Linked DNA regions of Homo sapiens: all the other regions are linked to region 1. Evidence: fine-mapped expression QTL. A gene starts in region 1. Each other region holds a variant in brackets. All regions are shown on one strand. Distances are from middle to middle. Region 1 holds the start of CPED1 (cadherin like and PC-esterase domain containing 1). Region 2 overlaps CPED1 (cadherin like and PC-esterase domain containing 1). Region 3 overlaps CPED1 (cadherin like and PC-esterase domain containing 1). Region 4 overlaps CPED1 (cadherin like and PC-esterase domain containing 1).

The links. PIP is the estimated chance that this variant, and not a neighbour inherited with it, causes the effect.
Region 2: its variant is the best candidate, but not a certain one, in a credible set for the expression of CPED1 in macrophages (Alasoo 2018, PIP 0.59).
Region 3: its variant is the best candidate, but not a certain one, in a credible set for the expression of CPED1 in uterus (GTEx, PIP 0.72).
Region 4: its variant is the best candidate, but not a certain one, in a credible set for the expression of CPED1 in whole blood (TOPMed, PIP 0.54).

What each region holds. Positions count from the first base shown.
Region 1 is chr7:120,987,409-120,990,098 of GRCh38, forward strand. It overlaps CPED1 (cadherin like and PC-esterase domain containing 1), which reads left to right and starts at 1,303. Exons shown (of 23, transcript NM_024913.5): 1 at 1,303-1,504; 2 at 1,983-2,462. The coding sequence starts at 2,214. RefSeq lists an enhancer at 479-558.
Region 2 is chr7:121,279,168-121,281,857 of GRCh38, forward strand. The region is part of intron 22 of CPED1 (cadherin like and PC-esterase domain containing 1); the gene reads left to right. Among named protein-coding and RNA genes, the nearest start is that of WNT16, 48 kb to the right of the region's middle. The variant C/T (reference allele first, on the strand shown) is at 1,185.
Region 3 is chr7:121,061,496-121,064,185 of GRCh38, forward strand. The region is part of intron 4 of CPED1 (cadherin like and PC-esterase domain containing 1); the gene reads left to right. Among named protein-coding and RNA genes, the nearest start is that of CPED1, 74 kb to the left of the region's middle. The variant A/G (reference allele first, on the strand shown) is at 1,261.
Region 4 is chr7:121,021,449-121,024,138 of GRCh38, forward strand. All of the region lies in intron 3 of CPED1 (cadherin like and PC-esterase domain containing 1), which reads left to right. Among named protein-coding and RNA genes, the nearest start is that of CPED1, 34 kb to the left of the region's middle. The variant G/A (reference allele first, on the strand shown) is at 1,542.

The DNA of each region.
Region 1 (2,690 bases):
AATTTAGAAATCTCACAATTCTTATTATCTCTCAAATCACATTGCATCCACCAAAACGATATGTCCTACAACACCACTGTTCAGCCATTTTCTCTTAAAACTCTTTTGGCTTCTAAAAGTGAAGCATCACTTTATTTTTCTCTATCCCATTTGTCATAAGATTAAGGACTCTGAACCTATACATAAAATAATATTAAAGCCACTGGAGGCGATACATGCAAGGGCTTGGGATAAATCCAGCTTCCGTGTGAATATTTCTTCTGTAATGTGTTAATTAATTTGTTCTATAGGATGTTAAAAGGGTTTCTTTCTCACAAGCAAGGAACTCTAGATGCCCATTTCTCTGAATCTGTGCTAGCTGGGCACCCCTAGGGGGCGCTCCGTCTCTCAAAATACAAGGGGCTGACAGCAGCGTGCCTCTGGGTGAGGCTCACTCTAGGGGTGTGGCCTCACGGAGAACCTCAACCCACAAGAGTTTGGCTTAGAAACAAGTTTGAAAACCTCTTCAGGTCCAGAGCCTTTAAATAATGCCTGCTATGCGCTAAGACAGCCCTGGGTATCCAGAGTTCACAAAGCAAGGACTGATTTCCTTTCGCCTTGACAGCCTCAGCAAAAGTGGAAGGGGGTTTGCAGAATTGCACTATTAGCAGCGTCCACCCGAAGGTCTGCACAGAATTAGACTGAGCTGATTCTGGACAAAGCCCACTGTGTACCTTTATCTACTGGGCAAAAGTTACCCCCAACACCTGCTATAATCGACTCATTTTAGGAGCAAAATGTCAGGCCATGAAGCATCAGATCATTGAAAGACCCAATTAATTAGTCCAGGAAAGGAGTAATAAGAACATCTGTGATCTGAGTTCCATACTAAGACACAGAGAGACGACTGAGTTATTCTGGTGCTTGCTGTCTGAGGTCCAGACAGTACTTGTGACCCTCTTATCCTCAGAAGAGTAACCACAATTCCCTGGAGTGAAGAATATCCCAATTCACTCATGGAGTTCACTTTAGTCTCATTCTCGACCTTTGTCACCAATTGGCTAAGGCTATTTGTTTTTCCAATTCTGTATTAGGAAAAAGAAGTTGCACAGAGGATCAGACATCAGATACGTTTCTAAATTCTGCAGCTCTGGGTGGGCAGCCTCATTTGGGGAAATGCTAGCTGCTGTTTCCAAAGTGGGGAAGCCCACGGTTTCGGACACAGGGCTGACAGCGCTGCTCCAGCAGCCCCCAGGGCCAGAGGAACCCGGCCTTAGCTCCGCCCCGCTCTGCCCGGCCCCGGGTGGCTGCGATGCCGAGGTCCTCTGCTCCCGCCGGGCGTGCAGCGGGCGCGCGCGCGTGTGTTTATGTGTCTGTGTGCGTGTGTGTGTGTGTCTCTCTCTGTGTGTGTGTGAGATGAATTGGAGTCATACGACTGGGTGTTTCCTTCCGAGTGGTTTTCATCAGCAATCCATTAGGAAATCATGGAAACTTTTTTTTTCCTGGCTAAAAGGATGAAAACTGAGTAAGTACATAGAACTTTGAACTTGAGACGGAATGAAACAAATTCAAGCAAAAACCCTGACAGTAACCATGTCCATTCAAATTGCGTATGCCCTTTTTATGTTAAAAGCCGTGAATACTTACAGGACAGTGGGAATTTAAAACTAAATGAAGGGAAGCATACAAAAGGCTGAAAGCAAGACTGCTTTAAAACCGGAGGAAAATTGAGGAACTGCTAAGGCAACCTGGCCTGAGTTCAGCTGTGCAACAGGCACTTTGGGTTTTAATCTTTTGCGTTCTTCAATGCTGTTTTCAGACTCCAGATATACTTTGGTATTGTTTTCTCTCTTCCTGCAAAGCTGAGGCAGAGTCGGACTCCTTTACTGTGAGTTGAAAGATGTGAGAATAAGGCATTGCTGGAAGCAACAGTTTGGCAGCCTGGGGTACACTCAGGTTATTCGTTACAACTATTATTATTTGATGTCTTTTTTTAAACTCAGGTCATCCACTTTTGACTGTCATCCATGGAAGAGCTCTTATTAAAAGCCTCAGACTTTCGGGACCTATGATTCTTTGGCACAACCTTTTGGAAAATTCTTAAGCAGGGATGAAGCAAACTTGATTGGAGTTGGGGAAAAAGAAGACAGATTAGTATTTTTCATGCTGACAAAAAATAGCTGCTATGACTTTTCCCGCAACGTGGACAGGGGCCAAGTGAAGCTGAACTGGTCATGGTCTGTCGCCCAGTGTTCCCTTGTCGTCGGCGATTTTGCCCCCGACCCTTCTTGGTGGGCTTAGTGGTGGCAATCTGTCTCTTCTACCAGACTCTGACCCTCCGAGGGTCGAGGAAGCTCACAGCCGCTGCCCCTGGGGCTGTCCCACACACATCCACTGAAACCCAGGCAAGCAGATGCAAGAAAGGATTCTCTCAGGACAAACAGTGCTTCCTTCTCTCTGGTAATGCCCAGGAAACCAGAAAGGTAAGACTCTCATAAGCTTAACGGAGACAGTTTCTGCAAAGACAGCAATCTGCTTCTCTGTCCTTTCTATAAAACTAAAATTAACTTCCATGAGGTCTGAAAGGGATCCAGAGTGTAAACAGCCTAGAGAGTGACCTGATGACTGGGAAACACGTTACATAAGCTTCAACTTCTTATAGTTACTTCCAGAAAGTTCTGGCATTACTTTATCTCTTAGGATTTCACTTC
Region 2 (2,690 bases), 290 kb after region 1:
ATCCCAAAAGTTCTTACACTAAAGAAGCTGGTTAGCTTAGTGTGACCCAGTTTTTCCCCAGCATTTTTGACCACAGAATGACTTTTCCTTATTTTTTTTATCACAACTATTAACACCCCACTAAACACACTTTGAGAAAATTGGCATAAGGATAAGGTCTAAAAAATCATGCATGAAGTACAGACTAAATGAGGCAGATTGACCACAAGCATTTATCTTCCCTTCCACTTGAAACCCCAAGAAAAATACTTTAAAGACATAAAGCTACTCACTCACTCCCCACCCCCCGCCACAAAGAAAAAACAGAATAACTCATAACAGACAAGAAATCTGAATTCATTTGAATTCATTCTATGAAGTTTGACTTAGCAGGCAAAATAAGGTACAACTGAAAGTGCCGAGAGAAGAGAAATACTAGCTGTGAGTGAGGCATACTTGCTGTTCAGATCCTATGCTGAAAAAGATAAGGCTGAGACACAGGTCAGAAAACAATTGGCTAGAAGTCTATGTGCAAAATTGGTAGACCCCTGAGTTCCTTACCCCAGCCCATACAGTTGGGAATCTATATCATCACATACAATATCTTTTAAAATGGAACTGCAGAAAGTCTGGACTCAGAAACACAAGTATAGTAAAGAATAAATTAATCTAGAGGCTGAAAACAGAAAGATGAAGGTAAAGTTGGCGTGTGAAGGGAGGAGCCCTGAACTTTTCCCTAGACCTCCTAGCATTCCACAGTCAGGCAGAGGGTCCCTCAGACAGGAGGCTGGAGAGCTCTTCTGACATGAAACTGAATGACCCACCGGAAGATCTTCTTTGAAAAGGCCAGAGTGGTGCTGAGCAAATTAATACAGTGAAGTCATCAGTTGGAAATGTTAGTCCCCACACAAATTGTGTAACATTTAGTGCCTTAATCTTAAATAAAATATTTAAGTTCAAGAGCGTTAGATAGAAACAAATACCTGTGTGTTAACGTCCAATAGATTCCAAGACCCAAGATGCACATCTAAATAGAGCAAAAGAGGAATTAGCTTATGCTAAGACTAGTACAGGTCATTCCAATAGTGTAAAAACTCAGCAACATAGATATTCAGCCACTTGGGAAATTGAGTTTAAGACAGGGGAATTTAGTGTCTGGGGAACTGCATGAGACTGTAAGATAGAACCAACAGTTTAATATTAAA[C/T]TGGTAAACTTCTGGTCTGGAGCTCCTTACAATCAGTCTCCGCACCTCAGAGCAGAATTTGTTCCCAGAGCCAACGCTCAGCGTTGTCCAAGGGCAGGAGTTACAAAGCCTCAGCTGTCAGAGTAAGAAGGGCTGGGGATTAGAGGAAGGGTGGGGGACAGACAATATGCTGACTGCAAATCTGGAAACACCAAAACAAAACAAAACTCATTCCTAAAGAAAGTTTTAGTCTTGCCCCCTAATCCCCAGCATCTTTGACAGATTCAGAAGTTGGATTCCCTTCAATCAAAACACAGTTTATTTCATGTGGCCATAATTAAATATTTGGGGGCAAAGGGATGAAATGAAAGAATTCCCTATTATCTGTCAAAATTGCATGATGTCCTGAAGTGAAATTATGAGTTATAAGGACTAACTTCTAGCTATTGTTTGTCACGTTATTTTTATTCCACTTTTGTGAATTCTTAGGCTACTTTTTCAGCTGGTCATAATTTGGTGACTGGATCTTGGATTGAATGCCATCTGCAGAATGACTACATCCAACAAAAAGTACTTCAACAGTATACATTTGTCTTAAGACTAACACATTTGCCTGGCCAATCTCATGTTTTCCAGCCTCAGAAAGCCATTACCCTGTCTCCTCTTCAGACCCCATCCATGATGAAACATATTTGTAATCAGAGCATCCTCTAATCCAGTATAGGACAATTTTGGAACACTTGCACCATAAAAATTGTTTTCTATTTTATTCTGTGGATCTGGAACCACATCAGAAGTTCTTTGTGGGTTATTCAGGTCAAGATCAATCTTAAGAAAGGTATTTGTTTGTAATCTGCCTGACACCTTTCCAGTTCACCAAGACTTCCCTTTTGTACTGGCTTTTTGGAAATTCAAAGTTATTTTTAGAATCAGCAGTTAATTGATATGGCAATACACACGTTCTGATGATGGTTTATGTGAAATCAATTTTGAGTGTTGAAATTACCTACATTTAATAGTGAAAGTTGCAATGTTAAGTTTGGTTTCATAATTCAAACAATTTTTTGTTCGTTTGGGAAGTCTTATAATTCCCATAGGCCAAATCCAGTCAAGTTGAATTGTGACCATTTGTATGCCTTCTAAAATGTCTCTGTACCCACGTTTTTAATGGTGTAGAGATGTGGAAAGATCTATAATTATAAACTGGCAGATCCCTTACCATATAAGGAAACTATAAAAAAGTAAATGTTATGTCTACAACCCAAAGCACAGAATTTCAATTCTTGCTACACTGAGTCACAGAAAAGTGTGATCATTTAATAGCCTATAAGATCTTATACTTATAAAACTCCATTTAGCTCCAAAATTGTTTTCCTAAATTTCTATAGTCAGTATATTTAAAATATTTGTCTTTGAAACACTGTAATTTTTACTTGAAAGTCTTGAAAGTCTTACATGTAACTTAATCAAATGTGAACATTGCTGTGAGAAAAACCATTTTTCTTATAAGACTTATGGAACAATGCT
Region 3 (2,690 bases), 74 kb after region 1:
TAACACATGGCCCACTCTGGTGGGGGATGTTAATAATGGAGGAGGCTGTGTGTGTGTTGGGGCAGGGAGTATATGGGAAATCTCTGTGTCTTCTGCTTAATTTTGCTGTGAACCCAAAACAGCTATAAGAAATAAAGTCCATTAAAAAATAATTGCAATGTTAAGCTGGAGAAGCTCATCATATAAAAGTCAGTGAATCCAAATTAAAACTCCTTTGATGATGTTCCACTTAATGATGCAAATCTTATACATTTTATGATACGTGTAAAAGTAAAAATACGAAGCAGTAGGATATAGAAGAGTATTACTAGGTTTAACAATTAAAAAGTTATAATCTGTGTAATATAGTTGAGTTACTACAGCTGTATGACACATGACCCTTGAATGTTTTTACTTCTTTGTGCTGTTATTTTACTCAGTTTAACTGCTTAGTTTGGTGTTCAGTTCCAGAGTAGAATAGAGGTGATGTTTCTGGTGTCACATGTTGCTACAGTCATGTCGTCAGCCACACTATTAATTCTAAAGATGAACTTTGGAGGAAGGAACACAGGGAGAAGTCATTGTTTGGGGGACAGGAAAATAGAAGGCAGAAGGATAGAACAATTGTTTCCCTTGGCTTGGCTCTATTATTTTCAAGTGCTTTGTTGGTTAAGAGAAGGTTAGCAATGGATCAGAGTCAGTCCATAACCTTTAATGCTACTTACCCAGTGCTGATTCTCTTTCTGAATCATATTGTTAAGGATTCTATTAATTCACCAGCAACGGAATGATTTTGCCCTATTTAGGGAAAATGGCTCAATTTCATTGATTTTTGAAGCTTTTCACAGACTAATTTAGAAAGATACTTTGTGAACTTAAAAAACAAACAAACAAAAAATCTCTATTACAACACTACATTGTAAAAGTCCATACGGACACCAAAGTGTGTATTAGTCCTTTTTATTAGTCTATTATGGGTTATCTATACTTTTGCAATGCTGTTTGTTCCCTCCAGCCCTTTTTAAATTCTGGATTGAAGAATTCAGGGTTTATGAAAGCCCTTCTTTTTCTACATTTAGTTTCTGAGATTTCTCACTTTTGGATTTGAGAAATCGAGACAGCCTTAAGATTGAAAGTGTACTGCACTTACAGCCTTTTCTCAATTCTTAGTGCAAATGAATGTCAGTGACGTCCACTTTGATATGTTCTGGCTGTGTCCCCACCCAAATCTCATCCGGAATTATAGCTCCCATAATTCCCACGTGTTGTGGGAGGAACACA[A/G]TGGGAGATAATTGAATCATGGGTGCGGTTTCCCCCATCCTATTCTCGTGGTAGTGAGTAAGTCTCACGAGATCTGATGGTTTTATAAGGGATTTTCCCTTTCACTTGGCCCTCATTCGCTCCTGCCTGCCACCATGTAAGGTATGCTTTTCACTTTCTGCCATAATTATGAGGCCTCCCCAGCCACGTGGAACTGTGAGTCCGTTAAAGCTCTTATTCTTTATGAATTACCCAGTCTCGCGTATGTCTTCAGCAGCAGCATGAAAAAGGACTAATAAACACTTTGGTGTCCTTGTGGACTTTTACAATGTAGTGTTTAGGAATGCCACTGGTGCAGAATCACAATAATAGGTTCTGCTGAAGCTAGGCTTCATTCATACAGGATCTGGGCTGAAGTTTTTCCTTCTTACAGCTATTATCGGGGAAAAGAGAGTTTGCTGAACACATGAACAGGGTTAATAAAGTAGCAAGGATTGGGGAAGATTTCATCAATGCACAGTTGCCAAGCACTTTAAATGAATCAGTTTTTAGAACTGTATCTTATTGATTTGGTAAAAATCTTAGAGCAGAAGTGGAACCTAGAGACTAAAAGCTCTAAATGCTTTATTTTGCAAATGAAGAAACTGAAAAAAAAAAAAAAAAAAAAAGCAAATGATGATTCTCTTAAGTGCCCGAAGCGAGCTACCACCCCTGTTTCCAGTTGCCTCTCTTCTCCAACTGCAGCTGGGTTATTTCTATCAAGTCATGCCAGCAGGACATAGTGCTGCAATACTTTATTAGGTTAGAGTGTGTTAATTTGAAAGTAATCAATATCTCAAAAATGAATCTGATTTTCAAGCTAATTTATACTGATCTGTTGGTTTTAACAAGGTTTTCTCATATTGGGTATTAGTTTGGGGATTAAGTGGATGATGTTAATCAATTTGTAGATTCACAGGAGAAGGGAAGAATTAAAGTTGTATCTTTTATAATCTTTTCAAACTCCATATATTTGAATTTATGATAATATTTACAAAGCTGTCTAAAAACAAGTTTTGGTTGAAGTGAAGTTTTGTGGGTGACTGGGTTTTATATTTAGAAATAATCCCTTCAGTATGAAGTGAAGAATGTTTATGAAATTTTGGAACGGGTTTAACACTGAATTGCCACTAAATATCAAGTTATTTATGTTACTATATTTGTCTCAAGTATTTTCTTTTATATTTAGCAAATATCATGGCTTCAAAATATGAAAGGGTTTTCAAAAAGTGATCCCAAGGACCACTTTTAAAGCTTCCCAGGGGCAAGTTTTAGTTTTATGTTATCAAATAAGCTACTTCATTATTCTGGATTTGCATGTTGACTTGCAGAGATTTGAAGGTGGGGTGTGGGTGGTTTAGACAGTGCATCCCATCTATACTCTCTGGGTTTTTTGTGTTTGCTTGGTTTTG
Region 4 (2,690 bases), 34 kb after region 1:
CCACGACAGATCAATCTTAACCTTTGTAATGGAAAACATATTTCACATTTTTCTTTTTATTTGTAATAAAAAAGAAGCTATAAGGAAGTCGAGCTTTAAATTGCCCATAAGTAAGACGAGCTTAACCACAATAATAACTTTCTTGGGGAGGTAGTAGGCTTTGGAAATTAAAAAGTATAAGCATTGAAGTAAGACAGAACCTAGGTTGGAGTCCTTAGTGTTACCTTTTAATGGTTACATAACCCTGGGCAAGTAACTTATCCTCTGAAAGTCTTGGTATTCTCATCTACAAGTTGATCCTTTTGAGGTTGTTTTAAGAATGGTACATAGTAATCACCCCATAAACGGGAGATAATATTGTTACTGCTGTCAAGAAGTAGTTACAGAAAGGAGAATATGACATTTCCCCTGTAGGGAGGTGTATTTAAAATATGCAGTAGTGTAAGAGTGCTGCTGTTGGATGTTATTATGGGTAAAATGAACTTGATAGGTGTTTTTCAATTTAGCCTTCTCGACTTATATGTTCTCATTAGAAGGTCTGGGTTGTAAATCCTCCTGAAATTCTGACATACTCTCCTGGATTATTCCCTTGGAAAAATCTCACATTAAAAAAAAAATCTGTAAGCTTCCTAAGGTCAGGGACCATGTCTTTTATGCTTATCATTTATAACCACACCTTCCACATAGGGGCATATGATAAATATTTATTAAATACATGAACAAAGGAAGATAAAATAGTACATCAATATTTGGGCTCCTTAAACAGCAAATTCACTCAGGAAACTCATATTAAACTTAGTTCATAAAACTTTTATTTTATTTGACTTTAGAGGAACACTGATATTCTATTTAGACTTAAGTCCACTCTTACACCAAAGATAATGAAACCATAAATATAGTATTACATAGGGCTGATAGTTTATACATCAAATGATTCTATACTGCTGGGGCTTTTGAGTACTTGTGTCCATTTTTAAGAATTTTACTCTTGCCTTGCTTTCAAGGCTCTCCTGTTACATTTGCCAGGTTACTTGACCTATTGATTTTGGGACAGGTTGGATGAGTTTCTTTCTATACATATTCAGTTATAGGTGCTGTGAATTTTCATAGGGATGTATTCAGCAGAAACTCAAGCAAGCAGAAATGCCAGGTCAGGAGATGTAGGTTTGTGGGTCATCTGCTGAGAGGTGATAATTGATTTACTGAAGGTTCAATAGCCTATAAAGCAGTGTGACACAGTGTTGCCTAAGGATGCTCTCTGGTAAAAGTAAGTATACAGCTTTTGCTACTCGCAAACATACAAAGCAAGAAGGAGGACAGTCAAAAACCGCGTCATATCACTTAGGTCCTATCTGCATCCTCTATATTATGCTCTGTAGTTTATTTCTTAGTGTAATGTAAGTTTTATTGGTCTTCCAGTTCTTTGCTTTGAAAAAACATATATTATGATCCAGAATTTTAATAACGTACTTCTCTAGAAAAAAAAGACACCATCAAATTATTATCTTTCCTATCATCCAGATGCTATTCAGTAAATCATT[G/A]TTTTACTTCATAGGATAGTAAGTGGCCAAAAAAAAAAAGATACATATTTTTCAAAGTTTTTAACCTGCTCCTGGGGTCAAGTCTCAGTAATATGTAGTTCAAAAGACTCTGACACAGAGTATATTTTATCATTTTGTCAGAATTATTTACGTATACTTCAAGAGGGTTTATTTCTACAGTTGCAGCAGAAGCCAGAACTGTAGCAGGAATGAGAAAACAGATTGTTCAACTGAAGAGAATATTTCTGGGAGGCCCTGTAGTAGTTGAACCAATATTTTTGTATTCCCATTGTTTAACAAGGTGCTTGAATGCAAGATTTATTTTTAGTAACTCAAGAGGGCATCACTAGGACCAGTTTATGGAAGGACATTTTATCTATCAGAGTTGTCCAGCAATAGAACAGCCCAGAACAAAAAGTAGGAAGTTTGGTTGCAACAGAAGCAACTCTGGGTTGCTGTATTATGTAGCAGAATGAGTGAAATAACCACCAAAGCTTTTTTACAACTCTACAGTTCTGTGGTACAATATAAGACTCAAACACACAGAATGAGAGAAAACAAGACAAAAATGTGAATCTCTATCATTGCAGGGATTCATTTTCTTTAGTCTTTGCTTTGTCTGGTGTTGCACGGGCAGAAGAGAGAAATAGCAGTCAAGGAAGAGGTGAGAAACACCAGTGTGGAGCAAATCTGGAGGTGGCCCTCTTGGACTAATAGTGCACATTTATAGCAGATGCTTCTGCTGGTAATTTAAGACTTGAGAGCCTAATGAACTTCTCTTCTCATTTCTTTCCCCCCTCTAGCCCCACACCAGCACCCTACTGCTTTCCTGAGTTTAATATGCTCTATGACTATTTAGCAGGAAGACAAAAGAGTAAAGGTCACATTTAAAAGGCACTGTGTGTTTTGCCTTGCCGGTGTTTTGCCTAGAACACGTTTGACATACGTTTTTCATTATGCAAGTAATAGGCTTTGGACGGTATCAGAAGTGCTTCTGTACTTTATTTAGTTAATCAAACTGGGGGGAAAAAAGGAATTGAATCAAAGAAACATGTAAGACTGCACTATTCTATTTTACTGGGTTATGACACACAGTAATTGTATGCTCAGGTTTATTGTTATTTTCCTCAGTGCTTATAGATTTACTGA